Linked DNA regions of Homo sapiens: all the other regions are reported to be linked to region 1. Evidence: microRNA targets listed by miRTarBase, many of them from high-throughput screens and not tested one by one. Region 1 holds a microRNA gene; each other region holds the end of a gene's coding sequence.
The links. The annotated mature microRNA hsa-miR-505-3p reads CGUCAACACUUGCUGGUUUCCU and lies in region 1 at 1,460-1,481, opposite strand. An mRNA with a match to its seed (bases 2 to 7 or 8) in the 3' UTR can be bound and repressed. Matches are read on the target gene's strand: a 7mer-m8 pairs with bases 2 to 8, a 7mer-A1 pairs with bases 2 to 7 and ends in A, and an 8mer does both.

Region 1 (5,144 bases):
CTGATCTTGGACTTCCAAGTTCCAGGATTGTGAGAAATAAATTTCTGTTGTGCATAAGCCACTGAATCTATGTTATACTTTTTATTTGTTTTGTTTTGTTTTTTTGAGGCAGAGTCTCGCTCTATTACTCAGGCTGGAGTGCAGTGGTGCCATCTCTGCTCACTGCAACCTCCACCTCCCTGGCTCAAGCAGTTCTCCAGCCTCAGCCTCCCGAGTAGCTGGGATTACAGGTGCTCTCCATCACACCTGGCTAATTTTTGTTTTTAGTAGAGATGGGGTTTCACCATGTTGGCCAGCCTGGTTTTGAACTCCTGACCTCAAATGATCCACCTGCCTCAGCCTCCCAAAGTGCTGGGATTACAGGCGTGAGCCACTGAGCCCCACCTGTTATACTTTTTTTTATAACAGCTCAAACTCATTTGGGGTTGGCATGTATGTTCTCTAAATTGACTGGTTCCCATGCTTTAAGTACAACAATGACCCTGCACCATTGCTCAGGTAATTGCCTCCTCCTGTAATGAGACTGCCCATCCCTAAAATCTCAGAACCTTCAGCCCTTTGGGTCCCCAGAGGCCCAGTTGACAGGCTACTTCCTCCATAAAGCTCTCCCCAAGAAATGAAGCCAGAGAGCCAGTGCCTCCTTCTGAATGCCTACTGCACTTACTGTGTATGTCCTTCAAAAGGATGGCTCTGGTGACCTACTGGCCTTGTGTGGAGGATGGTCCTGTGTGCTGGTCTTCTCTCTCTTCTACCAAACTGCAGGCTACTGGTGAGCAGGGCTGTACCTTACACACCTCTACAGCACCAAATAGGGGATGAGTGTTCCAAGAAAGCTGTGATTCACATGAATGTTTTCAGAAAAGAAGCCAGAATAAATTGTACACTATACTATAGATCCCTTAATCCTTATTACTGCAAAATACATTAATTGTGAAGCTTAAAGAACGTCCCCACTGCTTACACAACAGGTGTAGCTTACATAATCTGCTCTACCCAGCTGTTACTTACTTGTGGCAATTCCCTCCTGGCTTCTACTCCCTGTCGATATGTGGGATTACTGCACCATCCAGTATGATTTCCTTATTCCTTGCTCCAATCATAACAAATTTGTTAATTTTCCTTTATAACAGTAAAAATGGCTGAAACTCCAAATAACCAGAGATATCCCTAGGGTTTTCCATGACTATAAAACTCAAAAGACAATCCAGGATATAAACCAATATTTGTAAATATTGCCATAAAATTCATTGCTCAGAATTTTTTTTTTCCTATATAGTCTTCTTTGACAAAATACTGCAGTATTCCCACCATTTGGAAATTGTGTTACCCAAAAGGTATAGAATGGGATGAAGTGATGATGCAAATGAGTATTAGGACTATGAGCAAATGAATGGGAGCAGTAACAAAAGTCCAAAAGTCAGGAAAAATGAAAATCCACGAACTTGGCGATGCTCCAGAGAGGAAACCAGCAAGTGTTGACGCTAAACTGGCAGAAACATCAATACTTCCTGGCTCCCCCACTGGGTGCATCAATTTACCACCGGCAGGCTGCTCTTCTGCTTCAAGTGACAAACAGTAAGTGCTTTCAATGACAGTATGAAAAGGAATGACCCATAATCTAGAAGCATGGCTATGGGCAGCAAAGAAAAGATGTGATTGCTGGGAGTCTGTCTCAGCTGTACTGCTGATTAGCTTAATGATCTTGGACAAGTCATTTCCTTTCACTGAAAAAATACCAGTGTTTCACAATATTTGCGTGATGGAAAGAGTTAACATAGCAGGCCTGACACTGCTATTCTTAGTAAGGCCTGTTTGCAAGGTTGGTCCTTGGCTGGTGTCTGGGGACTTGGATTTTGGGAGGGTTTCCATCACCCTGATAAGAGTGGCTCACTCTGCTTAAGCTGTGTAAACAATAGGGTTTACACTGAATACCTGCTTTCCTCCTTGGGGTCTGGAATTTTGCTGTGTACCAGGTGGAGGGTGCCTGTGTGACCAGCTCCCACTAAAAACCCTGGGTACTGAATCTCTAATAAGCTTCCCTAGTAGACATTTCACACAAGTTGTCAAAACTCATTTGCTAGAGGAATTAAGCATGACCTGTGTGATTTCAGTGAAAGAGGACTGGAAGCTTGCACATGGTTTCCTCCAGACTTGGCCCCAATGAGCCTTTTCCCGTTACTGACTTTGCTCTGTATCCTTTTGCTATAATAAATCACATCCGCAAGCGTTTCTATGTACTGAGTTCTGCCAGTGAATCAACAAACCTAGGCCGGTTTTGAGGACCTCTGTCACAATTGGTATAGTGTTGAATAGTCTACCAAACGTTTTTTTCAACAGTCTTGTGAAATAGGTATTATTATTCCCATTCTATCGATGAAGAAACTGAAGTTCAAAAAGGTGAACAGAGAGTGTGCCCAGAAAATAAATATTTCCGTGTTTACTATATTATATATTGCTGTTCTCAAATTTTAGTGAACCTAAGAACCACTTGGAATGCTTGTTAAAAACAGTTTCTTGGAGTCTGTCACCCAAGACTTGGATTCAGTAAGTTCAAGGCCCAGGAATCTGTATTTATAGTAAGCATACAGGATTATTATTATTTGAGATGGAGTTTTGCTCTTGTTGCCCAGGCTGGAGTGCAATGGCACGATCTCGGCTCAGTGCAACCTCTGCCTCCCAGGTTCAAGTGATTCTCCCGCCTCAGCCTCTCAAGTAGCTGGGATTACAGGCCTGTGCTACCACTCCTGGCTAATTTTGTAGCCCAGTCTGAAATGCATAAGCTTCTTGGTGGCTGCTTCCTAAACTGATCATTCTTCATCTGTTATTACTGACTCAGACTGTGTTACCAATTCAGCTCAAAACAATTAAACAAGTATTAATTGAACATCTACTGTTTACCTGATGCTGTGCTAACTGCAAGATCATTTTCAAGAACACTTCTGATTTTTCCAAGAATACCTTGGTAAAGAGAAAGGGACTAGGAAAACATTGCCACATTAATACTTTATGACAACATATAATAGAGACGTCTAAAAAACAAATGATGATATCTGCTTGAACAGCAATATCATCAACATCACCAATCCTCCCATATTCCATTAAATACATATGGCACAAGAAATCAATGATTTCTACTTCACAAATACAGGTTAACCTTCTAAATCTGGAAATCCACGGTCCATTATCATTTATAAATCACATCTTCTATTATCAAGAAGTCAGCCGACCCAGTAATCCGTCCATACACTGCAATAATTGAGGGGCTGTCTGCCAATGTGTGGGCATAGGGCATCCTGTGCCCATATCTGCAGTGCTGAGCACTCATTCATCATTAAGCTGCAGCAGTGTTAACATATGCTGCAGTTGTGCCAGTATGTTTTGTTTTACGATCACCGCTAATCTACCCTTATACCAGGCCAAGAAGGTAAATGTTAAGTGAAAGGAAATAAACTCGAGAGCCAGCACCTAATTCATTTGTGGAAGCCCAGAACCTCCCTCCACCTAACCAGAAAAACTCCCCCAGTCTCGAGGGTTCCAGATGTAAAAGGTTCATCTGTATAAAGCACTACAGATGTACAGGAAATTCCACCACCTTGAAGAAAAAAATAGTATTTTTTTTTTATATCCCATGCATTCACCCTCTTTGAGAGAACTGAATAACCATGTTAGACAAGCAATGAGCCTTGATTTTTTCCATCACTCAACAAACCAGTATTTGATTTCACTCAGTGGGCTAGTTCTTTGCACATCATGCAGACACAGCAAGGTTAGTTATGGTTCTTTCAGGGGCCACTGGCCATCCTTTACCTCCTAGAACCCACTGCTCAGCAGGTGGTAAACTGGCAGCTTTTTGAAAAAACAAGCTCTTTTGAACAGTTGCATCAATATAAAAATGGCCAGCTTCACCTGCCCAAATCTCAATTCAGCTAAAAGTTAATTAGGAACACTGGAAACTACCTGGTATATAGGCACTCAATATTACTCACTAAATGGCTGAATTATTAGCAATAAGCATAAACAAAAGGAACAAACAGTAAACACTTACAGAAAGTATTCAGGACACATTCAGAGTTTTATGTTGCTTAGTCACTAAAAGGTAGATCAGGAAAAAAGAAGACAAAACCTGCTTTCACTTGTGTAAAGATTTATTTCAAGTTACAGTGGTTCATTTCTAAATAAGTTTCCCACCTTGCGTGGGGTCAGCCTAGCATCTATTTGCAAAAGAGCAGTTTGCCATGCGTAGGTCAGATGAAAGGAGACAAATGCAAGAAACTCCTTTTTAACTGACATCCAAACAACCAGAAAATAACTGATATTGTACAATCTATTTTTAGTAGAAAGAAAAATGACAAGTATGTAATAGTAACTTATTCACAAAGATCAAATTTCATGGTATGTCACAAATGTATTCAATGCAATGCAGTTACCATGCCCTCTATATCTATAGTTGTGTATGTAATGATAATTACAGCTCAGGAAGACAGGAACCTTGTCTGTCTTGCTCATCTACGACCCCAGGATTGACTGCAGTGCCCAGCACATAGTAGGTGCTCAGTGAATATTTGCTGAATGATAATTGCTCTGCAAAACCATACAATGCCTTAATCATCTAAGAAAGAGGCCAGGCATGCTGGCTCTTGCCTGTAATTCCAGCACTTTGGGAGGCCGAGGTAGGGAAATCGCCTGAGGTCAAGAGCTCGAGACTAGCCTGGCCAACATGGTGAAACCCCGTTTCTACTAAAAAATACAAAAAATTAGCCAGGCGTGGTGGCAGGCGCCTGTAATCCCAGCTACTAGGGGGGCTGAGGCAGGAGAATCGCTTGAACTCGTGAGGCGGAGGTTGCAGTGAGCCAAGATCGTGCCATTGCACTCCAGCCTGGATGACAAGAGTAAGACTCTGTCTCAAAAAAAATAACAATAAAAATAAAAATAAATAAAAGAAGGGGATATTTTGTGGCCGGGCTCATGCAGATGGCAGATCCTGGGACTTCTCAGCCTCTGTAACTGCATGATCCAATTCCCATAATAAATCTCAAAAAAAAGGAAAAAAAAAAAGATTATACTATGGTCAGTATAGCTTTCGGCATTAGATGTATTTATTCTAATTCTTAGAATACTAGTAATGTATACGGTATACCCCAACT
Region 2 (5,144 bases), not on the chromosome of region 1:
CATTCGGGAAAAGCCTCGCTGCGACTCCGGGGAGCCAGCAGACACCCCTGCTCTAGGGATCGGCCTTTGAGCGCGCTTAAGGGTTCGGGATCGGCTGAGAGCCGCGTGCCTCCTGCTCTCTCCAGGCCCGGATGCTCTCCAGGTCAGGGGCCAGACGTGGCCCCGCAGGAAGCTGAGTGCTTAGGCCCCATTTGTCTCTTCCCCGCATCCGCTCCTCCACCCCGGACACCCAAGTCAGCAAGCTGGTTGCTCATCCCTCCATGCTCCTCAGGGCAGGCAGCTGGGTGATGTCCCTCCCTGTCTCCCCCTCCCCCCAGGAGAGGTTTGCGGCCCACGAGGGGATGAGGCCCATGCGGGCCGTCTTCACGCGCCAGGGCCATATCTTCACCACGGGCTTCACCCGCATGAGCCAGCGAGAGCTGGGCCTGTGGGACCCGGTAACGCAGCTGGAGGCTTGGGGTGTGTGCCTCGGGGACTGGCATCACGGGAGAGTGGCCAGGCGCCCCCCACCCGCAGGGCATGCCCACCTGGACAGGACTGAAGGCTGCTGCCACCTCTGCAGCGCCTGCCATTCTCACACCCACCCCTCTGCCCAGTTTTGCTGCGTCGCGTGAAGGATCCTGCGCTGGCGCCCCCACCTGGTGATGCCGAGTCCCTGGGGGTGGTTTGCTGTGACTGCATGCGGCGCGCAGCGGGTATATGTGCAGGGGAGGAGGAGCTATGTGCGCAGGGGAGGAGGAGAGATGTGCCCAGGGGAGGGGCCTGCAACTCTGGTCACTAGAGGTTTGGGGCATAGGGTTTGGGAAGGCCAGGAAGCGTAAAGGGGCTTCTGGGGGTCCCGAAGTAGCACGGGAGGGTGGGGCAGGGCTGGTCACGCCTCCTGTGCTCGGGCAGAACAACTTCGAGGAGCCAGTGGCACTGCAGGAGATGGACACAAGCAACGGGGTCCTATTGCCCTTTTACGATCCCGACTCCAGCATCGTCTACCTGTGTGGCAAGGTGCTCACGGCCGGGCAGGGAGAACAGGGCACTGGATGGAGATGTGGAGGGCCTTGTCCGGGCGCGCCCCTGAACCGACTGATTTTGCAGGGCGACAGCAGCATTCGGTACTTTGAGATTACCGACGAGCCGCCTTTCGTGCACTACCTGAACACGTTCAGCAGCAAAGAGCCGCAGCGGGGCATGGGTTTCATGCCCAAAAGGGGACTGGATGTCAGCAAGTGTGAGATCGCCCGGTCAGCAGCCTTGGCCCCTCCTGAACACCTACCCGCCTCTGTCCCCCACTCATGTCGGGTCCTAGCCACGGGGCTTCCCCAGTAATGCAGTGCTTTGGAAAAGCGGGGCGGGGGGATAAGACAGCTCTGTTTCAGTGCCAGACCCACCGCTCACTAGCCTTACATTCTCAACTTCAGTTTCCTCATCTATAAGATGATGGTGAACACACCATCAGGGTGTTTTATTGCAGAACCAATAATGTGTGTAATGTGCAATATGCATGGTAGGCGCTGAGCAAGTGTTGGCCTCCAACCCCCTTGGTCTTAGACAGGAGAAGTTAAGGACGTGGAAGTCTGCGAGGGTGCTGAACCCTGCTCCCTTATAGGTTCTACAAGCTACACGAAAGAAAGTGTGAACCTATCATCATGACTGTGCCCCGCAAGGTGAGGGGCCGGGAGAAGGGTTGGGCAGGGCTACGAGGCGGAAGGGAGCGGAGCAAGCCCCGCACCCTCTCACGCAAGTCCTCCTGTCCACCCACCCCCGCAGTCAGACCTCTTCCAGGACGATCTGTACCCGGATACGCCAGGCCCGGAGCCGGCCCTAGAAGCGGACGAATGGCTATCCGGCCAGGACGCCGAACCCGTGCTCATTTCGCTGAGGGACGGCTATGTGCCCCCCAAGCACCGCGAGCTCCGGGTCACGAAGCGCAACATCCTGGACGTGCGCCCGCCCTCCGGCCCCCGCCGCAGCCAGTCGGCCAGCGACGCCCCCTTGTCGGTAAGATCGGCCCTGCTGCACTCTGGCCCAATCTACATCTCCCCCAACCGCCCCTATACGACACGGCCTCTCTGTCCTCCGCCCCAGCAGCAGCACACCCTGGAGACGCTGCTGGAAGAGATCAAGGCCCTCCGCGAGCGGGTGCAGGCCCAGGAGCAGCGCATCACGGCTCTGGAGAACATGCTGTGCGAGCTGGTGGACGGCACGGACTAGCCCCGCGCGCCAGGCAGGCGGAGCGGGGCGGGGCGCACAAGCTCGGCCCCGCCCCGGCTTTTAGTCCCGAACTCCGGACCCCGCCTTCTTGGGCTGGGCCCGGGGGCGGGACTGGGGAGGGAACTCCGCCCCTCGCGGGAGACCAGAACTCTTGGAGCTTAGGGGAGACCCACGTCGCTCCAGCGGAGGCTGGACTGCGAGCCTCGTCTGGGACTCGGCTGGAGCTGGCCTAGGGAGGCCTGGGGTAACCTGGGGGGCTCAGCAATGGTGCTGCACGGCGAGGTGGTGTCCCCCTTTGTCCTCCGCCCAGGGCAGGGAAAGTGCTTAGTATTAGCGTGATGCTTGGGGTTATTGGAGCCTGAGCTTGACCTCAAACGGGTGGCGATTTGATGGGTACCCCCAGGCTGGGGAAAATGACAGCGCTTCTCCTAATCAGCTCACTGGATTCCATCACCCTGAGCGGTAAACCAGATGGGCGTCACCCCAGTTCTGCAGACACATACACAACCCGTTTGCTGCAGAGCCGGACCCAGTGGCTACACCCACAGCGGTCTGTGGTAGAGAACTCTCTTCCTTCTTTCCACCGACAGGGGCGAGGGCTGCTTCCTCGCGGCAGCCCCCGCGAAGAAATCTCGAGAGAACTGGCATGAGGAGTTAGGTTCATCACAAATACACACACACTGCCCCCAACCCTCTGCCGTTGCCTCTCTCAGAAAAACAAGACGTACTGAATGAAATATTTTACTAAGCGTTCAGTCTGTGCCTCCTGCATGGGTGGGAGTGAGGGGAACGAGACCCCCAGCCTCTGCAAATGCTACCCCCAGGCTCCTGGGAGACCTGGCGATGCACTCCTGGGCTCAGGGTCCATCAGGCAGCCTCTTACCCTAGAGCTCTCTCCACTCTGAGGTTCAGAAGGACCCCAACCCACACCGTAGGCGTTCCCCCCAAGTAAAGTTAGGTAGCAAAAGCCTCCGGTATGAAGCCTCTTTTATTTGTGCCTCAGAATCAGTCTGGTGCCCCTGGCATCAGGGAAGGGGGTGGGAGGAACAGTTTCTCTTTGTTCTTTTCTTCCATCCCTCTTTGTGTCCCTTCTGAGCCTCACTGGCTGAGCCGGGAAGGCCAGTCCCAGACAGGCCCGGGACAAGGGTGTGCGGTGGGCCCCTGCCCCTGGCGGGGTCTGTGCTTCTCTGGGTGGGTGAGGTGGGGCAGGGGAGAGCCGGGGGTTAGCACCATTGGATGAAGGGTTTTAGAGTCAGTCTCCGTGTGGGGGCAAGTGGGATGTACAACCACAGAGGCTAGCAGCAGCTGGTGGGAAGGGGTGGGGGTGGCGCCAGGGCCCTGGGCGAGCCCTTTGTGTCCAGTCTACTTGGGTCTAGTGCTTACCCCAGCCCAATATGCTCCCCACTCTCCGAGGCACCATGAGGGAGTCAGGGCTTGCACAGGCCAGGGGGCTACGTTGGACACACTCCCTGATCACAAAAAAAAAAAAAAAAAAATGTGCCTTGGGGGATGGGACTCCAACTTCTGGCTGCCCAAGGAGAAGCTGGAACCACCCTGAGACCCAGGACGGGTGTGGGGGCTGGGGGAGCCGGGTACCCCGCTAAGTGCACTTGACGCTGAAATGCCGGGGTGGGGGAGGGGCTGGGCCCTAGACGTGCTGGTTTGTGTCTGGAACAAAGCAGTGACACAGCACGCGGGGAGCTCAGCTGCCCCCCAGGAGTGAAGAGCAGAGATGCAAAGGCTTCAGGGGCAGTGTCCTGGAGTGGGGTTAGTGAACAGAAATGCGGACCGGCCAGAAGGAGCAAGGGATAGGGACAGCGCTCCTCTAAGGATTCATCTCCCCCTCAGGACCGCCTGGCTCCGCCCTAGGACAGGACAGATCTGAGCCCAGGGGAGCGGGTTGGGGAATCAGAATACAGCAAAGCAGGGGGACCAGGCCGTGCCAGTTGCCTCCAGGGCCCTGGCCTGGGAAGGTACCCCGCGGCCATGCCGAATCCCTCCCCGAACCGTGCCTGCTGTGCTGCTGCACCCGCGAGGCGGTGGCTCCAGTCTCCAGCCGCCGCTCTGCAGGCGCGCAGGCCGGGGTTTGTCTGGCTCCTGGCCCTGGGCGTGGCGCGCGTGGCGCTGGCGAGGGTCCCGGCAGGGGGCGCTACTGCTCGGTCAGTGAGAGCCTCAGGATGCGCTCCAGCTCCTCCTCCTCCTGGCGCGCGCGCCGCCGCCTCTCCTCCTGCTCCTGCGCCGACAGTTCCATCGCCAGCCGCAGCTGCTCGTCGTAGCTCCGGAACACGTGGCCGCCGGAACCTGGCCCTGAGCTGGGCCGAGGGCTGGGCACTGACGCCGGGGGCGCAGGCTGGCGCTGCGGCGTGGGCGGGGCGCTCCTGGGGGTGGGGAAGGAATGTCGCGGGCTCCCGGGCGCACCCACCCACCGGCCGGGGCCGGGACACGGCGTGGAGGCTCCAGGGCGGCCCGCGGCCACCACCCTCTAGTGGAGGCGGTCAGTCCCGCGGCGTCCTGGCCCCCACCTGGTCGTGGCGGAGCCCAGACCCTACCAAGTTCTCCCCGTCAATGCCTGGGGAGAGTCTGAACTCCGCGGTGAAGCCTGGATCCCTGACCCCTGCCTGCCGCCTCGGAGGCAGGAGTGGTGGCAGAAGCCATCCCGATACCAGGAGGGTCCCTGCCGAGGGCCCCGCGGGTTCTCCGGCTGTGTCCTGGCTTAGGGGAGACAGGATCCTCTCCGGAGGATTCTCTCCGGCCCAGCGGGCACTGACCTGTCCTGTCGGCGACCCTCGTAGGACATGGGGTGGGTGCCTGGCTTGCTGTTGGTTAGCGCCTCCCAGATGGTGACCTGCGGGGAGGCGTGGGCGTTAGCCGTGGCGGCGCGGAGTCCCGTGGCCCCGCGCGCCCGCGGAGACGCACCTGGTCATACTCACTGCCCGCCT
Region 3 (5,144 bases), not on the chromosome of region 1:
CAACATGGGAGAGGGTGGGGGCTGGATTTCAGCCCAGCCACTGTGCTGATGGTGCACAGCCCTTTAATGCTGTGTATCATCTCTTTTCTTCACAGTGCCATCTCTGTGGAGCTGTACTACATCTTTGCCACAGTATGGGGTCGGGAGCAGTACACTTTGTACGGCATCCTCTTCTTTGTCTTCGCCATCCTGCTGAGTGTGGGGGCTTGCATCTCCATTGCACTCACCTACTTCCAGTTGTCTGGGGAGGATTACCGCTGGTGGTGGCGATCTGTGCTGAGTGTTGGCTCCACCGGCCTCTTCATCTTCCTCTACTCAGTTTTCTATTATGCCCGGCGCTCCAACATGTCTGGGGCAGTACAGACAGTAGAGTTCTTCGGCTACTCCTTACTCACTGGTTATGTCTTCTTCCTCATGCTGGGCACCATCTCCTTTTTTTCTTCCCTAAAGTTCATCCGGTATATCTATGTTAACCTCAAGATGGACTGAGTTCTGTATGGCAGAACTATTGCTGTTCTCTCCCTTTCTTCATGCCCTGTTGAACTCTCCTACCAGCTTCTCTTCTGATTGACTGAATTGTGTGATGGCATTGTTGCCTTCCCTTTTGCCCTTTGGGCATTCCTTCCCCAGAGAGGGCCTGGAAATTATAAATCTCTATCACATAAGGATTATATATTTGAACTTTTTAAGTTGCCTTTAGTTTTGGTCCTGATTTTTCTTTTTACAATTACCAAAATAAAATTTATTAAGAAAAAGGCTCATGCAGTTGGAGGTTTTGGTCTGGATATAGGAACTCGAGCCCTGCTGTTAAGGGCACGGTCCTTTATAAAGCCGAGCTGGCCACTGAATGCCCGAAGCTCGAGTTCTCCAACCCAGCTTGGGAACTCCCGGCGTGGGGAACCTACATTGCCAGAGTCGGGTTTCCGCGATTCAGCCGGTGCTCAGCCTAACGGAAGTGGAGGAGCCGGACCTCTTTGTGGGAAGCGAATTGAATCACCTTGGCAACCCGCGGGGCGTGCAGCAACGCCCTTTCCTCCGGAAGTGGGTGTCAGAACCTCCACGTGCTGTCCCTCCCCCTCCCCTTTTCGGCCCAGTAGCGGCGGCTCAGTTGCTGCCATGGAGTCAGCCGGGCTAGAGCAGCTCCTACGGGAGCTGCTGCTACCGGACACCGAGCGCATCCGTCGGGTACGGAGCAGGCGTAACCGGGCCAGGGCGAGCGGGAGGTTGCGGGAAAGGCCCAACTCTCACCCCTAGCTTCCCCCCAGGCCACGGAACAGCTCCAGATCGTTCTTCGGGCCCCCGCCGCTTTGCCGGCTCTCTGCGACCTGCTAGCCTCGGCGGCCGACCCCCAGGTGAGACCCCTGACTCTCCCCTCCGAGCTTCCCACTGTACGCCACCGGTCAAGCCCCAGTATTCGCCCACTGCGGTCCGCTCAGCACCTTCCTGCCCGGACCCCCACGTGCTTGCTTCCTCGTCCTAGATCCGCCAGTTTGCGGCCGTGCTGACCCGCAGACGACTGAACACCCGCTGGCGACGGCTGGCGGCGGAGCAACGGGAGAGGTGGGCTGGGCCTGGGGTGGGGCGGGGCCAGGCGGAGACTTTTCTTGGGCAGGCTGGGTACCAAACACCTGCCACCTGTGTTCCAGCCTCAAGTCCCTGATCCTGACGGCCCTGCAGAGAGAAACAGAGTAAGTACCTACCCACTTCTCTCGGGATCTTGACGACTTTGTCTAGGTTTCTGCCTTCCTTTTCGGCTCCAGGCTGGGACTTGTGGGGCAGGGACTTCAGTTCTAGACGCAAGGTGGAGTGAGGATTTTAAGGCTGTTTTGAAGACTAAAGTTCTTGAGGAAGGGTGATGATGATCTGCCAAACCCAAGTCAGAAGAATAAGACTGAAATTCAGGCTAAGTTAGACTGAACTTACCAGATTACATGCCCACAGTGCTGTTGGGCTCCCTCTGAGCTGCTGTCTCATGTGTCCCAACTTGGCAAAGACCCTGTGCCCACACCTCCTGAAAGTTTCTGTCCTGGCTGCCCCATTGAGCCTGGCCACTGTGTGCAGAGGAAGGTATTGAAGGGTGATTGGAGGAGATCTCTCCTGTTTGCAGGCACTGTGTGAGCCTCAGCCTGGCCCAGCTCTCAGCCACCATTTTTCGAAAGGAAGGCTTGGAGGCCTGGCCACAGCTTTTGCAGCTGCTTCAGCACAGTACCCACAGCCCCCACAGCCCAGAGAGAGAGGTACCATCACATGGTTGGCAGGAGGGAGGGCCTGAGAGGCTGGATAGACCTTGTAAGCTTGCTCTCCCATCCTCTATTCTTGGACAGATGGGGCTTTTGCTGCTAAGTGTGGTGGTGACCTCCCGGCCCGAGGCCTTCCAACCCCACCACCGGGAGCTTCTTCGGCTTCTGAATGAGACTCTTGGTGAGGTGGGCTCTCCTGGGCTGCTCTTCTACTCCCTGCGCACTCTGACCACCATGGCTCCCTACCTCAGCACTGAAGATGTGGTGAGATGTGGGCCCTCGTTATCTTTGACTCCCTTTCCTCATGCCTTCATGTCCTCACCCGTAAAAGTTACAAAGCTGCTTTGGATTCTTTACCTGCCTGTGGCCCTTCCTGACAATTGAGAGGGGATGCTGTAGGTGGGCCTGGCTGTTATGCCTGGGCTCCTCCTCGCAATTCAGGCTGTGAGGAAGCTGCCAGCTGCTGGGGTGTGAGATTGGGCTGCATCATGCTCTCTGTGATGTGTCCCTCAGCCTCTCGCTCGGATGTTGGTGCCCAAGCTGATCATGGCCATGCAGACTCTGATCCCCATAGATGAGGTGAGGACAGGTGGGCAGGAGCTCTGTTGGAAGGAGAGTGCAGAAGTGTCCAGTTTGGCCCACTGAAGAAGAGCATGGTAACCTTGTGCCTTGTTTGTCTGTCAGGCAAAGGCCTGTGAGGCCCTTGAGGCTTTGGATGAACTGTTGGAGTCAGAGGTGCCGGTCATCACCCCCTACCTCTCTGAAGTCCTCACATTCTGCCTGGAGGTGAGCCTGGAGTGGACATGGCCCCTGCTACATGCTCTGCTGGGACTCTCCTTCCCTGTCGCTGATTTTTATTATTCTGTGGACAGGTAGCTAGAAATGTGGCCCTGGGCAATGCGATACGCATACGTATTCTCTGCTGCCTCACTTTCTTGGTCAAAGTCAAGAGCAAGGTAAGTGAGTGCCCATTGACACACATCACCCCACCCCCATCTCCACCCTTAGTCTCACTCCTGGGGCTTTCGGTCCATCTCAGGGTATCTAAAGTACTGTGGGGGTTCAAGCCTTGGCCTGGCCTCACCCCAGCTCCTGCCTGGGAGGTTGGGAATTTTCTGTCAGACCCCTTATGGCCTGGAAGACTGGAATTTTTAATGTGAGCCCATCCTGGGAGCAGATTCTTAGGGACACTGTTCCACCTTCTCTGTCAAGGCCTTACTGAAGAATCGTCTCCTGCCACCCTTGCTGCACACCCTTTTCCCCATTGTGGCTGCTGAGCCCCCACCAGGCCAGTTGGATCCCGAGGACCAGGATTCAGAAGAGGAAGAGTTGGAGATTGAGCTGATGGGGGAGACTCCCAAGCATTTCGCTGTACAAGTGAGATGTGGGGCAGGACAGAGGGGGAAGGTGTTAGGTGGCTGTGGGACGTTGGGGAGGCAGAGATGGAGTCAAGCAAAGTAAGTCTCCCCATCCCATCTCAGGTTGTGGACATGCTGGCACTACACCTGCCCCCCGAGAAGCTCTGTCCCCAGCTGGTAAGTGTGGCTCTGTCCTTCTGGTGTCCCTACCTCCAAGTGTGCCTAGTCCCCCTGAGGCCAACGACGTTTAGACCCTGGGAGGTGTGAAGGCCTATTACCACAGGAATGGGCAGGCTCTTGCTGGGGTTTCAGAAGCGTGCCACATGCTTCCCTAGATGCCCATGTTGGAAGAGGCTTTGCGGAGCGAGAGCCCATACCAGCGCAAAGCTGGACTCCTGGTGCTGGCCGTGCTGTCTGACGGAGCTGGCGACCACATCAGGCAGAGGTATGTATTCCCCTGTCCCAGGGTGAGGGTTGCCCACAGGGAGGACCATGGCTGTCCTGGTTTACGCTTGTTGTTCAAGCTTATTTATCAACAGCGTTTCCCCCCATTATCAAAAGTGTCCTGGCTTGGAAGATAAATGACATGGCTTACCAGCTATAGGGACCAGGGGCTGCTGCCCACCCTCTGGTGACAGGAAAAGCCTTGGTTTTTCCAGGGAAAATGAAGAGAACAGGTCAGCCTAGGGCTCTCAGGTGTAGCTTCTCAGCCTATGTCCTCTTGTTTGCCCCATCCAGACTGCTGCCCCCACTGCTGCAGATTGTGTGCAAGGGCCTGGAGGACCCCTCGCAAGTTGTACGCAATGCTGCGCTGTTTGCCCTGGGCCAGTTCTCAGAAAACCTACAGGTGAACCAGGCTGAATGTGGGAGCCACCACTTGAATGTCCCCTTCCCCTCATCTTTCATCTCTTCAAGCATCCCTGCTGCCATCAGCACTCTTGTGTGTGCCCGGCAGGTGAACCTGACTCAGGCCCTGCTTGCTCCCTCCCCCAGCCCCATATCAGCAGCTATTCAAGGGAGGTAATGCCACTGCTCCTCGCCTACTTGAAGTCGGTGCCTCTTGGACACACACACCACCTAGCCAAGGCCTGCTATGCCCTGGAGAATTTTGTGGAGAACCTAGGTAGTGATGGCAGTGGGGAGCTTGGGGAAGGGGGATGAGGCGGCGGCTTTGGCTGAATGTACAGGATGTGCATCTCCCTGCATTGCTGCCTGTGGTAGGGGAAAGGGTGTGATGGTGCCAAAAAAAGGTTTCCGCCTGGAGGGAGGTGGGCGTGCAGGTAGCAGACCTGGGTTGGTTGGTAGAGGAGCATCCTTTCCCACAGGGCCCAAGGTGCAGCCCTACCTTCCGGAGCTTATGGAATGCATGCTGCAGCTTCTGAGGAACCCCAGCAGTCCCCGGGCCAAGGAGCTGGCTGTGAGCGCCCTGGGAGCCATTGGTGAGGAGAGAGGCAGGAGGCAGGGATGTGGGGTTCACCCAAAGGCCCTGTGGCTGGTGGTCCCTGCCCTCTCCAGCTCTGATTCTGTCCTTCCATCCTGCAGCTAC
Region 4 (5,144 bases), not on the chromosome of region 1:
AAAACACACAGGCCTGCTAAACAGAAGGGTAAATGTTTTGCCCTTCTGGCTTTAAGCAGTCATAGGAATGTGACAGACATTCCTCTTAGGGAGCGCCTCCTCCTAGGGTTTCCTCATCTGTCTCACACTGAGTGGATGTAATGCTATTTTAATCCTGCTGTGGCCCCCAATACTAGTACTTGTCCATACCTTCTTGCATTTTTAGCGTCTGCTCTGTGGGGTTGTTAGGCCCTGGCACTCCCAGGAACTAGTGCTAAAGCTGCATCTCTCTCTCCCCTCTAGGGATCGATAAAGTTTCACTGCAGAAAGTCTCCACTGCGGTATGCTGACATCTGCCCTGAACCTTCACCCTACAGCATTACAGGCTTTAATCAGATTCTGCTGGAAAGACACAGGCTGATCCACGTGACCTCTTCTGCCTTCACTGGGCTGGGGTGATCCTTGGTGCCTTTGTTTCCACAAGGCCTTTTCCTGCCCCCTGCCTTGCCAAAGACATTTAATCAGCACACAGCTGCCAGACTATTCCCACAGTGCTCCAAATGCACATGAACAACAGTGACGGCTCCAGCCTTCGACCCAGAGCCCCGTGCCCAGTGCGTCAGTGGGCCTGGGGTTCCAGGCTACATCAAGCACTGATGGTGTCAGGGCTGGTAGTTACCAAATCAGGGTTAAGAAACATCAGGGCCACATTTCACTACCTTCACAGATCAAACTCAGCAGCAGTCATGACTGTCTGTCACTACACTGGGGATCCCAATTCCACATAAGCACTTTTGGAAGAAAACAGCCAAAGTTGGCCTAAAATTGGCGCTGGAATTTGGGCTGGGAAAAATCTTGTGGTTATTTCCTTTAAAAAGGAACAAAACTTTAGTATTTAATTAGTTGATTTATTTAATGTAATTTCAAACAATTAAATTATGAATAATGCAATGTACAGTAGAATCACGTTTTGATTTTATTAACACTGACCAAGTTTAACTCCATATGAAGTGTAAGCTTGATATCGTTTATGATGTCTATCAACTGTACCAAAAGTAAAACATTTAAAAACAATCATCTGAATGTCAAGTTTTCTCTCCATAAAGGACTTGCCACCTTAAGGACCCCAAGTCTGCCTGAAACATGAGCCACATCAATGCCGGTAAAGGCCTGCATGACCTAATCTGCATCCTGGAAACCTCTTTTGCCTGAGCTCCCCAGCCCCAAACTAGCTGGTCTGGGAGAGGGAGCAGGCAGGTTCCAGGAGTCAAGCACACGCTTGAGCAAGCAGCACAATAATCCATCTTAAGACTCCTCATTCTGGGATGGCTCCACAATTCCTAAACAGCAGTCTGCAAACTCCACAAACAAAGGCTCTTGCATGTAAGCTCTCATGAGCTTTGCTTTGTCTTCTCCCTGATCGAGGTTGACCATCAACTGCCTGAGGTGTGGATTGAGCAATAAGCTTCTTAATGTTGCAGATTCCCCTAAAAATTAACAAGAAAAAAAGCCAGTCTGAGTTCAAGTGGAAACACATGGAGATGGCTGAAAAGTGAAGAGCTATTTCAAGTGTAATAAAACTATCAGCAAGGTGTGGTGGCTCATGCCTGTAATACCAGCAACTGGGGAGGTCAAGGTGGGCAGATTGCTTGAGCTCAGGAGTTCAAGACCAGCCTGTGCAACATGGCGAGACCCCACCTCTATAAAATGAAAGGTAAGACCAGCATATCAAACTATTTCCGCATTAAATGCAGTAACAGATACCAGTTCTTGGTATCTTTGTAAATATTGTAACTTCGTGCCACTTCAGCTAAGAAAAAAATGCTTTATCAGCACAATCACAAAGCAAATAGTAGCATTAAGCTGCTGGCATGTTTTCTTTCTTTCTAGCCATAAAAGTTGCCAGTGGTGAAGACGGCTATACGAAATAATCTGAATGATGTCTAAGCATGCCATTTGGCATGCAGCAGCACCAGTAGCAGGGAACCAACAATAATACCTGCATGGTACTTCACAGTCTGTAAAATTTTTCACACCTATTACTAGCTCATCTCCAAACTCAGTCTAACTAATCATTACCATGAGACTAAGTGCAAAACATAACCTTTTAACATGATTCTGTGAAATGGGAAGAATGAAATTAACAGACCCCATGCACATGTAACAGAATGTTGTAAGGACTGAATAAGCAGTGCTACAAAAATGGCAACACCTGTTTCCCCCTAAATCAAATCATGTGATAACCAGTTTGTGTTAAGGGCTGGACTGTGAGCTGAGCACTGGGGATCTGGGAATACAGGTCCCTGCTGTACAAATCGGTATGTGAGAGACAAATTACCATGAAATGTAACAGTGATTTATTACTATTAAGTCCAAGTTGCTATGGGAAACCAAAAAAGTGCCTAATTCTGAAAGAGACACAAAAGGTCAAGAAAAGCTTAGCTGAGTGAAGAAAACTTGAACCAAGGCTTGAAGGAGGAGCAGAATTTTGCCAACCCACAAGACCAGCAGGATTCCAGGCAGAAGGAATGGTGTGGGCAGGCTGGGAGGTGTGAAACCCTGTATGTTTACAGATTATGTGGCTAGATAGTAAGAGCCCTACATGCCATACTTATTCAAGAAATTAAAAACTTTTTAAAAAATCACAATCCTTACAACACAGTAAATGTATCTCAACGATTGACAAGCATAGCACAGACTTACCTAAATTCTTTAAATTCTGCAAAGAAACTCTGTCTTCTTCCTCATCACTATTGAGAAAATCAGCTATAGAGTCATCATCATCTAAGGAATACAAAACAGTCAATGGCTCATGGCTAAAAAGGAGGCCTGGGCACCAGATTTTAACCACTACTTGAACAGGATAAAAATGTGTGCACGCACATGTGATAGTGATAGGGGTATTCAAGCAGGTACAGACAAAAATCCTCTTCTCCGGAGTCTGTGACTATACTAACACTCCTTTTTTAGAAGAGGGAGGCTAAGTGAAAGAATTGGTGATTTTAACAAATGCACTCTAGTGTTCACATCCTTACTGTATATGTGGTCCTGTGGTCTTTAGGCTTAGACCCCGGTTGTCTAATAACTTAATACCCATCCCCACCTCAACATGGCTCCAACCCTGTGATGGGCCAATTAACTGGATGCTCTGTAAAAACCAGCCAAGTAGAATCTCCTGTGCTTTCAGCATGGGCAGAAACTGCTGGCATTGCCTGAACCCAACCTGGAAATTTCTCAAAGGGCAAAAATGGGCCATGCCTTTGGAGTGAATGTTCAATACCTCTTTGGTGGCACCAGAGGGGCTGCTTTCAGAGCCTGGCATGGTGCTTGACACCCAGGAGGTATTAAAGAACGTTTAGATGGCTGGACGGATGGGTTGACAGCCCACTACTGCTGTGAGCTCTGAACCCCCAGCAGCAGCGAGATGATCTAGGACAAAGAAAGCCTCCTGCCTGGGCTGAGTTCAGGTGAACTGACAGTCCCAGCCAGATTCATGGAGGGAGACCAGCAGCTATGGGCTAGAGAAGGCTCCTGCCAGCAGGGCCCACCGCAAACCCCCAAACCACAGCCATGGCCTTTCTCATCTCTGTCTTCTGCCCATTTTTCTTCTCCTGAATACTGCTTTCAGGCTGTTGCCTCAATATCACCCATGATGACATGGCCCCACTCCTGATGCTCAAGGCTAAGGAAGCTGTTCCTTCCCAATGAAGCTATTGTTCTGGATTCCCTGACCAGCCCCACTCTCCCCTTTTCCTTCGACTTATTCTATGTGAAGTCCCTTGTAGATTTGTTTGAAGTCAACCAACCCACCTTTGTTTTCCACAGGCTTTACGGTTTTGGTAGGAAGAGCTGATCTTATTTTTTTCTCAACAGGACGAGTTTCAGGGTTGCACTGTTCTGAAAAAGACACAAATCCCAGGCCCACATTACCTCCATTTCAGCGACAAGGCTGCACCTCCCTACCAAGGTAGCATCTAGGTAGGAAGCAAGTGTCTGGGGTAAGGGATGTGGGTGGGTGCCCAGGAATGTGGAAGAAGTGAGAGATCAAAGCAAGAGAGAGATTAAGGAAAACCGCCAGCAGGCTGAGAAAGCAGGACTCATTCATGCACCCCAAGAACCTGTCCCCATCCTCCCTACCCTGCCGAATCTTACAAAATTCTCACCACAATTAACTGAGGTGTTTGAAATAGCTGCTGTAAACCAGATACCAGATGGGATAAAACTAGGGGCAAAACCACCAAAGAACTTACAGAGTCAACAGAAGGCCAGCTGTGCTGGCTCACGCCTGTAATCCTAACATTCGGAGGCCAAGGTGGGAGGATCACTTGAGCCCAGGAGTTTGAGACCAGCCTGGGCAACCTAGCAAGACTATGTCTCTACAGAAAATAAAAAAAATCATCCAGGCATGGTGGTACACACATGTGGTCTCAGCTACTTGGGAGGCTGAGGCAGGAGGATCCCTTAAGCCCAGTGTGTCAAGGCTGCAGTGAGCTGTGATTGTGCCACTGCACTCCAGCCTGGGTGACAGTATCAACAGAGCATGAAGTCACAGGAAAGGGTTCTGAGGACATAAAGGCAGGACCAGATTGTAGAGACTTAAAATGTAGATTTGACAATATGCTACGGAAAGGTTCTAGTCATGTAGGTGGCAGTTACAACAGCTGCCAGTGACTAAGTGCCGAGCACTGTGCCAGGTACACAGTGAGATACATAGTGGCTCAATGAACCTTTACGAAGCCCCCATGACATGGAGACTGTTAATTCCACTTACAGATGAAAGGATTAAATTTTCTTGTAATAAACTTGTCCATTGGGGTCCACAGCTAGTAAGTAGCAGAGGCAGATTTGGAATCCGGGTCTAACTTTACGGCTATGCTATATGTGTAAGGAACACAGCAGGAGGGACTGAAGGAGAGGTGAATTTTCTGGGTTGTACCTGACCCCAAAATACATTTGTGTCTAAGGTGCTCAAAAAGAGGCTGGAGCTAAACAGTTGGATGTCAGCAAGAAAAAAAAAAGTTTAAAGTGAAAGAGAGATCACCTACCTAGGAATAAAAGTCAAGGACCACATTTCAAGAGAGAGATCTAGCAAAAGGAAGGAGAAGCTGGGCACAGTGGCTCCTGCCTGTAATCCCAGCAATTTGGGAGGTTGAGGCAGGAGGACT
Region 5 (5,144 bases), not on the chromosome of region 1:
CATGTGTTCTCATTGTTCAATTCCCACCTATGAGTGAGAATATGTGGTGTATGGTTTTTTGTTCTTGCAATAGTTTACTGAGAATGATGATTTCCAATTTCATCCATGTCCCTACAAAGGACATGAACTCATCATTTTTTATGACTGCATAGTGTTCCATGGTGTATATGTGCCACATTTTCTTAATCCAATCTACAGTTGTTGGACATTTGGATTGGTTCCAAGTCTTTGCTATCGTGAATAGTGCCGCAATAAACATACGTGTGCATGTGTCTTTATAGCAGCATGACTTAATAGTCCTTTGGGTATATACCCAGTAATGGGATGGCTGGGTCAAATGGTATTTCTAGTTCTAGATCCCTGAGGAATCGCCACACTGACTTCCACAATGGTTGAACTAGTTTACAGTCCCACCAACAGTGTAAAAGTGTTCCTATTTCTCCACATCCTCTCCAGCACCTGTTGTTTCCTGACTTTTTAATGATTGCCATTCTAACTGGTGTGAGATGGTATCTCATTGTGGTTTTGATTTGCATTTCTCTGATGGCCAGTGATGGTGAGCATTTTTTCATGTGTTTTTTGGCTGCATAAATGTCTTCTTTTGAGAAGTGTCTGTTCATGTCCTTTGCCCACTTTTTGATGGGGCAATTTCCTTTATTATGAGTGTGATCTCTCTCTGGGAGAACTGATCGCAGTAAAGGGGTGGGGAACCGATGACTACTGGTCTCACTCATGATAACAGCTAACACTTATTGAGTGACTACTGCATGCAAGGCATGGTTCTAAGTATTTTACATGTATTAATTAATTCTCACTACCCTGTGAGCATGGTTAAATGTAATGAACTACAGAGACAGAGAGGGGAAAGATAAAGGAGAGAAGTGATAATTAAAAGAGCAAAGGCTCTGGGAATGGGGCTATCCTTTGACACTAGATTGGACATCTCCTCCACTGCATCTTCTGAAGGACAGAGGCAGAGAGGTAACAAGTTTATTTGTTTAAACCAAAATCTTTAATTTCAGCACTTGTTTTCTGTATAATACCTAAAAACAAAAGAAGAAAAACTCTAACAAGCTATTTTAATTGCTTTGATACAAGTAAGGACAAAGTGTCATGGGGATTAAGGAGAGGGAAGAAACAATTCTGCCTTAAGTCCAGCGGGCAGAGGTGGAAGTTGGGCAGCTTCAGCGTATCTTGAACACCCACTAAGTAGCAAGTATACCTGAGGCTTTGGGATCCCAAAATGTGTAACATATGGAGATCGTCCGGTGTGTGTCTCTGTTGCTGTGGGCTGGCCAGAACCCATTCTCTTCTGTCCTAGGACTTCAATTGCTTTTGAGGATTCCATGCCCACTTTGTTGCCATCTTGATGGACTATATGATCAAGGTGCTCTGACCAGAGGGTGGTCATGAGGCTTAGAGTTCTTTCCCTGGGAAATTTTATCTTGAGATGAGTGACACAAGAAACAAGAATGAGTCATCATCCCAAACTGTATGCCTTGGAGTTCCTGCGCCATGGACCCCCAACGCTGACCCAGGTCTTATCCTTCTGATGGCTGGTCCTTTGGCCCTTCTTTGAATTCCAAGAGCCACCCCACATCCTGCCATAAATTCCTTGTCTGGTGAGGTTAGCCAGAGCCAGCTTCCAGTGCTTGAAGCCAAAGGATCTTGGCCAATGGATATAGCCACCCATAGAATATGTGTCAAGAATAGCTGATGGATGGGATTATAGCAGATCCAAGACAGGTTGACCCCTCTTCATCCCCTTTCCCAATAAGTTCACAGTCCTTATCATGGGGATGGGATCATGGCATGGCTCTTTTGAGACACTGTCAAATCCCAGCTAGAATTTACCTTCTTAGCCACAGTCACATTTTTCAGACCCTTCTGAGTGCCATACCTCATAACTTTCAGAAACAAACTTTGGGGAAGGCTATCACCCCTGGCCCTATACTTCTCAGTTCGACTCCTCTGTTTACCATCTCCGTGTCAGTTCAGCCACCCACACCCATGACCACACTGTGGCACATGGAAGCTGTGTTTGTGAAACCTCTGCTGACCTAGAGAAGGTCTTTACTTAGCTTTCTTTGTGCCATTCAAGTGGTTTGTACTGCCCACTATCATCAACTTATCCTATCACGTTGTAATGGCTTGTCTATCTTTGGTAATACCTGTGAACCCTTTAAGGGCAGTGTATTAATCAGGGTCTAGCATAGTGCTTTGCACTGAATGTTTGTAGAACAACCAACCAAACACAGAGAACACAGGAAGTTGGGGAATATTATAAAGATCATGTGAACCAGCCAGGTGCGGTGGCTCATGCCTGGAATCCCAGCACTTTGGGCGGCTGAGGCAGAAGTATCACTTGAGCTTGGGAGTTCGAGACCAGCCTGGGCAACATAGTGAGACCTTGTCTCTAAAATAATAATAGACTGGGTGCAGTGGCTCAGGCCTGTAATCCCAGCACTTTGGGAGGCCCAGGTGGGTGGATCACCTGAGGTCAGGAGTTCAAGACCAGACTGGCCAACATGCTAAAACCCCATCTCTCCTAAAAATACAAAATTAGCCAGGCGTGGTGGCACACACCTGTAGTCCCAGCTACTTGGGAGGCTTAGGCAGGAGAATCGCTTGAACCCAGGAGGTGAAGGTTGCAGTGAGCCAAGATCACGTCACTGTACACCAGCCTAGGCGACAGAGCAAGACTCCGTCTCAAAAAATAAATAAATAATAATAAAAAGATAAGTGAACCAACCTCTTTTAAAAAGGAAAACAGAACCAGTTAGGTGTTCCACACCACTCTACCAAAAAAAGTACTAGTTCAGATTTTAAAACGTAAGGCAGGCCAGGTGCAGTGGCTCATGCCTGTAATCCCAGCACTTTGGAAGGCTGAGGCAGGCGGATCATGAGGTCAGGAGATCCAGACCATCCTGGCTAACACGGTGAAACCCCGTCTCTACTAAAAATACAAAAAACTTAGCCAGGCATGGTGGCGGATGCCTGATAACCCCAGCTACTCAGGAGGCTGAGGCAGGAGAATCACTTGGACCCGGGAGGCAGAGGTTGCAGTGAGCATGCGATTGTGCCACTGCACTCCAGCCTGGGCAACAGAGTGACACTCTATCTCAAAAAAACAAAACAAAACAAAACAGTAAGGCAACCTACTGAAGGTTATTAAGTAGCAGGTCAGGGCCTAAGTCCAGAAGAGTGTTCTTGGCACCATCCAAGGAATGGGTGTGATACCATCCCATTCCTTCCCCATCAACATAACCTAGCCACCTAAGGAACACACCCAAGGCTCTGCAGCTCCATTCTCACATTCTCTCCCACACAAATTACTCAATCCAGTCCACTGTCAGTTTAGGTTTCAGGGCACAGTTTATTAAAAAATTTTAAGTAACTGCAAGTCCCACCCCCGATTCCAGTATCTGTCCCCTCCATATCTCAACAGAGGGGCTGTCTATCATATGTGGGTGGGATGGGAAAGGAAGAGGTATGGTCCTACTATGCAAGTTACTCTCCAGCCTTCAGCTTGTGCTGTCCCAAACCTGAGTCCCTCTGACCAAGGTAAGTTGTTCAGAGAGCAGTGGTGCCACCCTGACAGCACTTTAGGACAGTGCCATCTCCTGAGATCACTAGTCACATTCCAGTCATTGTGACCAATATATTAGTTATCAGTGGTGGTCAAAGGTAGACCAGAGGCACAGGCTGTTGAGGGAAGACCCTCTATTAAAGAAGGTTCTAAGAATGAAACATGGAATGCTCAACTTGTTAAAGTGCTCAGCTACAACATTAAAAAAGTGTCGGGAAGGTGTCTATTGGTGAGAAAGCAAGGTACAATCTGAGGGGCTCCTGGAAAGATACAATTTTAAAAGTACACAAAAGGACTTCTGCTTAAATCATTCCAGCAATGAGAGAAAAAAGCTTAGAGCTTAGCCTCTGAATTACTTAAGCTGTAAATCAAATGTATCTCTAGGTGGAGACCAACTCCTTCAATTCCTCATGGAGACGGAATAAAACATTTACCACTGTCTTTTGCTCTAACTCTTCTCTCACTAAATAATTGAAAATCTGGTTTCCTTAATGGACATCACCACCACAAAAATGTCCACCATGGGCAAGTGATCAACTTAAGTATGAATGGCCTATAAACCACTTTCCTGCAGGGTTGGCTAGCCAAAACCTGGAGTGGGACGAGAAATTTGAGTTTCCACATCTGCCAGGCTGAGAGGCCCATATCTAAGAACAAGAGGTCCATAATGTATCTATTCTCTTGGCATGATTACAAGATCCATGACTGGTGTGCCATGGCAGTGAGGGAAAAGTATCCATCAGCAGCAGTGGTTATCTTGTTCTAGAAGCTAGTGTATAGCCTCAGCAGTCACTTGTAAGTCCAGTGGGCAGTGGCCCAGCCCTGGCCCTTGCATAGGTCCCGGTGGCGGAGAAAACAGGCATGGACTCGGAACCGACGGCCACAGTGGGGACAGGCATGCAGGGCTCCAGCATGGGTCTTCATGTGCTCTGTCAGATGGTGCTTCAGCTTGAAGCGCTTGTTGCAGATGCCACAGCCAAAAGGCCGAAGGCTGAAGGTCAGCATGATGTGCCGGTCACGCTTTGGCTTCACTGCAAACCGCTTCCCACACAGGCAACCAAAGCGTTTTCCATCTGCAGGGGGTGTCCCCCCTAGCTTCACAGGCCCATGCACGGCCTGGCCTGCTCCCCCAGGTCCTCCACCCCCTGACAGGATTTCATTCCCATGAAGATCCACTGGTTTCCAGGATGGACCCCCTCCCCCAGATGTTGGCCCTGGCCCTGAAGGCAACAAGAACCCTAGCTCCCCATTCCCTTCAGTGTCCCCTCCAGAAAACACTTTGGTTTCCTCCTTTGCTCCTCCAGGCTGAGTTCCGCTTCCTGATATCTCCTCCTTAGGCTCGAAGGGTTCCTGCTTAATGTAGAAGATTTTGGGGGGCAGTGCAGGAGGGGCAGGAAGCTCAAGTGGTGCACTCTCACCCTCTGGAAGCTTTCGGGGAGTAGCAGTCATGGGCAGTGGGTGGGGTCCATGAGGACGGGGAAAAACCCCTGATACTCTCTGGGGCTGAGGAGTCTGAGAGAGTGTGGCTGACCCCTGGTCCTCATCATCATCATCT
Region 6 (5,144 bases), not on the chromosome of region 1:
ATCACTTGAGCTCAGGAGTCCAAGACCAGCCTAGGCAAGATAGTGAGACCTAATGTCTGTTTTATTAATAAATTACAAAGTTAAAAATAAACAAAAACAAATGACTTGTAGATGATTGCTGACCATTCTGTTTTAGATTTCTAGTGCTGCTGCTGTGTAAGCACAGCTATGAGTCATTGAGCTTAGGGCATGTAATTCTTTTGTTGAAGCCCCTTGGTTCTCAACAAGTAAATGACAGTGGTGAATGATGGGAAGTAGGTTGTTTTTTTTTTTTTTTTAATTAGTGGTCATGTGAACTGGAAATGGACATTTCAATTTTGTAAAACTTATAACTGGATTATGCAGAAACTTGCTTGTTATAAGCAAGTTACCATTGTAAAAACTAATAGGGATTTCTAACATAGTTTCTTTTATTTTTCTCATAGTGCGTAAGAGACGAGTTGAAGGAGATCACCAGTAAGTCTGCAAAGGTGTAATCTTTGGAAGACTTCAGAAGATCACCAAGGGCTCATGTTGGTGACATCATGTAAAATTTTCCTGGGTAGAAGGGAAAAGACTGGAAAAATTTTTTTAGTGACATGCATTTTTTTTTTAGTTGTTATCAAATTGTAAAATCAGTAATGTGATATTTTATATTCTGAAACATTTCTACTTTCTGCTAAAATCAATTTTAATTTAGTTTAATTGAATGATTTATGATGAATCTTGGGCAAAAAAATACAACTGTAAAAAATTTCACAGGTCATTTGTGTAGAATAATTTGAACATTGTGAGGACCAATCTTTTTTAAATCAAAAGGGATGTTGCTGGTATCAGAATTGTTATTGCTTCATTTAGACATAAAACACTTAAGTGTTTTCTTCACTCCGTGACCTGGAGAGTTTTCCATTTTTTAAAATACATGAACTTGGCAAGGGTGTGATTTTTCTTTATCAAGAGAACAAAATGCCAGAATGTTAAAACAGTTAACTCAAAATCTAGTCATCTGTGTAGGAGCTAAAGCAGGTCTCCAGGGAGAGAGGGTGGTCGTCTGTGCATTCCAGGTTACTGCACTTGTCTGATGTGACGTAGCAACACCCAGGTCTTCTTAAAACAAAGTCATCAGCTTTGCCAGGTTACATACTTTATTTAAAAGTATAGTGAGGTCGAAGTTCATTCCAGTGTTTCATTTTAATAATGTGGGCATTATTAAATTTTTGTGGAAGCTAATAGTAAAAAATAAAAGCTGTTTTCACCACCTCCCTCCCCACCCCCCAAAAAAGGCGTACAGCCAACTCTTAGTTATTTAGGGTAAGAGAAAAAAGAAAACTGTTAAACAATGAAATCAAAGATAATAAATATGATAGATTTCCAGTATGAGGCACTTGCAAAACAGTCATTTAAACTGATGGTTACTGTAAGTCAGTTGGAAGCTGGCATGTATGTAAATTACTTGGTGTTACACCATATCCGAAGAAGTTCCTATGTGCAGTGCAGAATTGCATAAACAGTATTTAATCACTGCTACAAATCTTCCAACCAAGAAGGAAAACTGCTATTCTTCATAAATCTAATTTTTAGTATATGCTTCCTTTCATCTTATACTTTTATCAATATTTATAAAAGTCATTTCTATAATAAAAGCAGTCTTTCTTGCTCAAAGTATTAAGGTGAACAATTGAATAGAGTACTGTGGTCGGGAGACTGATTTGAGACTGCAGAGCTGATGCTGGGTAGAGGGTCTGGACTTGTATTCATGTTCTGTCTCAGGGCAGCCCCTGGAGCAGGAGATGGCAGAGGCATTTACAGCTGCAGAAAACAGGGAGGAATGGAATCTGAGGTAGCCCTGGCCTCAAAATTCAGGCCTGGCTGTATCATTTACAGAGATTTTTCTGGAGGGAAAAGTCTCATTTCTGAGGAAGGCAAGGTGGCTAATCATTATTAATTTTTTTTAAACTTTTTGGGCCGGGCGCAGTGGCTCACGCCTGTAATCCCAGCACTTTTGGGAAGCCAAAGTGGGTGGATCACTTAAGGTCAGGAGTTCAAGACCAGCCTGGCCAACATGGTGAAACCCTGTCTCTACTAAAAATCAAAAAAGTAGCCGGGTGTGGTGGTGCACACCTGTAATCCCAGCTACTCAGGAGGCTGAGGCAGGAGAATTGCTTGAACCTGGGAGATGGAGATTGCAGTGAGCTGAGATCGTACCACTGCACTGCAGTCTGGGTGACAAAGCAAGACTCTGTCTCAAAAAACAAACAAACAAACAAACTTTTTGAAATTGAATTGCAATATGTCTGCTACTTTGGCTTGGGCTGGACAGTTTATCTAATAAGCAAGGCAGCTTCTTGTGTGCTATGGTAATAAGCCTTCTTAACAGGCTAAGCTTCCCTCATAAGAACTGTGGTGTTTCTCTTTTTTTTTTTTTGTTTTGGTTTGTTTTGGTTTTTTGGTTTTGTTTTGTTTTGTTTTTTAAATCAGTATCCAATGTTTTATAGGGGCCAAAGGTTAACTTTGCACTATTCCCTGTCAGTTAAAGGCCACTGATATTTTTCTAAGTTAGCAAGGCTCACTTGCTTGCTTTCTTGCCTCCCTTGCCTCCATCCCTCTCCCTTCCTACCTTCTCTATTTACCTATTTCTCTCCCTCCCTCTCTTCTCCTCTCTTTTTTTTTCCCCGCATATGCAGCTTTTTGATTGTACTTGATTTTATAGAGACTGCACAGTTCCAGCAAGATTGGGAGTCAGGCATGGAGCAGGCATCTCAGGCTACCAGAAAGAATTGGTCACCTAGACTTTCAGTCAGGCATCCTCGTTTGCATTGTCCTGTAAGTCAATTAGTTGATAAATAGTTCCCCCTTCATCCCTTAAGTTTTGTTTTTGTTTTTGTTTTTAATATAGGTAAGTGGGACTCTACCTAAAATTTTGCATCATACTTATGGGTAATATCTTTTTCATATATTATTTATCAAAGTATGAAGTTGAGTATTTTGCTTGTACCATTTCAATTCTGCATTATAGTAGTTCATTGTATAACTGAAAGAAATGATTTCTTCATAAGTGACATTAAATATGAACATTCATCCAATTGAATTTACAAAATCTTTCCAAAATTATAAGGGAGAAAAATCGGGTTTACTTCAATCTTTAAAAATCTGGCACCTCTTAGTAACTTTCAGTATTTCTAAATTGCTCTAAAATTTTATAATAAATAGATTAGGGTTTTGCAATAGTCTTAATTTTTAAGCCAAAGGTTTTCTGAGACCTTAGGTTTTGTAGTCTAACCAGCTTATGTGGTTATTTAAAAGAATATTCTTTGTGTTTTTAAATTGCTATTTTTAAAAAAGCTTTTTATTACCCATTTTATAAAATGTTATACTCATATTTGTCTGAATTTTTCCAGTATTCCTACATGAAATTGTATGTATTAAAAACTCAATATTAGTGGCAAATATTAATACTATTAAAATGGATTTTGGTGCTATATTCTTGTAGCTAAAGCCTAGTAGAATTCTCAAGAATAGGTGAAATACACTTTCAAAGTTGCCTGTCATTTAAAAGACCAAATAAGCATTTTGTATTAAATAAATTAGCAGATGGTTAGAGACTTCAAGGAGAGTTAGCTTGGTCATTTAATTGCGACTTCATGTTATTTGATTGAAATAACCCACATCCTTGCTTTGTATAAGATATTCGCTCTGGAGAAGTTACATGTAAATAGAATTCTATAAATTGTTTTCCAGTTGACCGAGTATCTGTTGTGTTTTTGTTTAAAAAGAGGATTCCATGACATAATAAAAATTATTTTAAAAAATGTTTTGGGCCGGGTGCGGTGGCTCACGCCTGTAATCCTAGCACTTTGGGAGGCCGAGGTGGGCGGATCACCTGAGGTCAGGAGTTCGAGACCAGCCTGACCAACATGGAGAAACCCTGTCTCTACTAAAAATACAAAATTAGCCAGGCGTGGTGGCACACACCTGTGATCTCAGCTACTCGGGAGGCTGAGGCAGGAGAATCACTAGAACTCGGGAGGCGGAGGTTGCAGTTAGCTGAGGTCGCGCCATTGCACTCCAGCATGGGCAACAAGAGTGAAACTCCGTCTCAAAAAAAAAAAAATTTTTTTTTTTTTATAAAATGTTACTCATATCATATTGTACGTTATATTTAACTCTTGCTGTCATTAAAATAAGATGACAACATTTATGAAGTTTTATAAAATCTTACATTTTAGGGTCTGTGTTCCCAGGGCTGCCTCACTTTTTCCCTAAAAAACTAGGAACCACTGTTAACCTCCCAGCAGATGCAAGGATCATGCTTTCTCTGGAGTCCTTAGTCACTTCCATTCTTTGCAAGTTTAGTACTGCCCAAATTTACTCATTCTACAGTGTTACTGCACTTTGAACGTATTGACCCATGTCACCCAAGAGAAGCAAACATATGGATGCACTAGAGACAACTCGGGTTGCTGCTCTCAGTTAAGGGCTATGAGTTCTTGGGGTCTAAGTATCTGTAAAATTATCCTCTCCATCAGCTCTCACTGATCATTAATGTTTCTGGATATTTCTTACCCTAAGATTTGCTTACCAACAAATCAAAGAAACGCTTCACTAATTATTTTTAAATTGAGAAAATAGTATTCAGAGGCAAAGATTTTTATATTCTTTTTTGAGACCAAGTCTCACTCTGTCATCCAGGCTGGAGTGCAGTGGTGCGATCTCAGCTCACTGCAGCTTCCACCTCCCAGATTCAAGTGATTCTCCTGCCTCAGCCTCCCAAGTAGCTGGGATTACAGGCGTCCGCCACCACGCCCGGATAACTTTTTGTATTTTTAATAGAGACGGGGTTTCACCATGTTGGCCGGGCTGTTCTCAAAGTGACCTCAGGTGATCCACTCGCCTCGGCCTCCCAAAGTGCTGGGATTACAGGCTTGAGCCACCACACTCAGCCTTATTCTTATATTTTAATTTGGTCATTCTTAGATCTACAGATTGAACATCCCTAATTGAAAACTTTTTGAGTACTAACATAGTGTTCAAAGGAAATGCTTATTGGAGCATTTAGAATTTCAGATTTTCAGATTAGGGATGCTGAACTGGTGTAATGCCCAGTATTCCAAAATCCAAAATAATTTGAAATCTGAAACACTTAATGGTCCCAGCATGTTGGATAA

Region 2: miRTarBase lists ANKRD13B as a target of hsa-miR-505-3p. The part of its 3' UTR that is shown has no 7-base or 8-base seed match.
Region 3: the mRNA of TM9SF1 is a reported target of hsa-miR-505-3p. The part of its 3' UTR that is shown has no 7-base or 8-base seed match.
Region 4: miRTarBase lists MYO19 as a target of hsa-miR-505-3p. The part of its 3' UTR that is shown has no 7-base or 8-base seed match.
Region 5: the mRNA of ZBTB9 is a reported target of hsa-miR-505-3p. The part of its 3' UTR that is shown has no 7-base or 8-base seed match.
Region 6: the mRNA of TMOD3 is a reported target of hsa-miR-505-3p. The part of its 3' UTR that is shown has no 7-base or 8-base seed match.

What each region holds. Positions count from the first base shown.
Region 1 is chrX:139,922,701-139,927,844 of GRCh38, forward strand. MIR505 (microRNA 505) reads right to left here and starts at 1,531; the gene lies at 1,448-1,531. The region is part of intron 1 of ATP11C (ATPase phospholipid transporting 11C (ATP11C blood group)); the gene reads right to left.
Region 2 is chr17:29,612,793-29,617,936 of GRCh38, reverse strand. It overlaps ANKRD13B (ankyrin repeat domain 13B), which reads right to left. Exons shown (of 15, transcript NM_152345.5): 13 at 5,122-5,144; 14 at 4,974-5,050; 15 at 3,176-4,583. The coding sequence ends at 4,355. CORO6 (coronin 6) reads left to right here. Exons shown (of 11, transcript NM_032854.4): 6 at 318-437; 7 at 895-999; 8 at 1,090-1,235; 9 at 1,601-1,658; 10 at 1,762-1,992; 11 at 2,080-3,175. The coding sequence ends at 2,205. Among named protein-coding and RNA genes, the nearest start is that of CORO6, 7.5 kb to the left of the region's middle. RefSeq lists silencers at 2,213-2,262, 2,142-2,355, 2,803-2,872, 4,201-4,310, 4,471-4,700 and enhancers at 1,934-2,797, 3,663-4,526.
Region 3 is chr14:24,184,760-24,189,903 of GRCh38, reverse strand. It overlaps TM9SF1 (transmembrane 9 superfamily member 1), which reads left to right. Exons shown (of 6, transcript NM_006405.7): 6 at 96-755. The coding sequence ends at 489. IPO4 (importin 4) reads left to right here and starts at 1,088. Exons shown (of 30, transcript NM_024658.4): 1 at 1,088-1,185; 2 at 1,266-1,352; 3 at 1,481-1,560; 4 at 1,647-1,688; 5 at 2,108-2,237; 6 at 2,325-2,504; 7 at 2,754-2,819; 8 at 2,925-3,026; 9 at 3,113-3,196; 10 at 3,453-3,617; 11 at 3,722-3,775; 12 at 3,934-4,043; 13 at 4,337-4,445; 14 at 4,592-4,721; 2 more. The coding sequence starts at 1,117. RefSeq lists silencers at 1,517-1,636, 1,882-2,092.
Region 4 is chr17:36,491,545-36,496,688 of GRCh38, reverse strand. MYO19 (myosin XIX) reads left to right here. Exons shown (of 26, transcript NM_001163735.2): 26 at 283-1,053. The coding sequence ends at 438. It overlaps ZNHIT3 (zinc finger HIT-type containing 3), which reads right to left. Exons shown (of 5, transcript NM_004773.4): 3 at 3,790-3,876; 4 at 2,683-2,763; 5 at 867-1,466. The coding sequence ends at 1,285. Among named protein-coding and RNA genes, the nearest start is that of ZNHIT3, 7.4 kb to the right of the region's middle.
Region 5 is chr6:33,455,757-33,460,900 of GRCh38, reverse strand. It overlaps ZBTB9 (zinc finger and BTB domain containing 9), which reads right to left. Exons shown (of 2, transcript NM_152735.4): 2 at 3,357-5,144. The coding sequence ends at 4,379. Among named protein-coding and RNA genes, the nearest start is that of ZBTB9, 3.8 kb to the right of the region's middle.
Region 6 is chr15:51,908,351-51,913,494 of GRCh38, forward strand. TMOD3 (tropomodulin 3) reads left to right here. Exons shown (of 10, transcript NM_014547.5): 10 at 426-5,144. The coding sequence ends at 460. Among named protein-coding and RNA genes, the nearest start is that of LEO1, 61 kb to the right of the region's middle. RefSeq lists an enhancer at 8-177.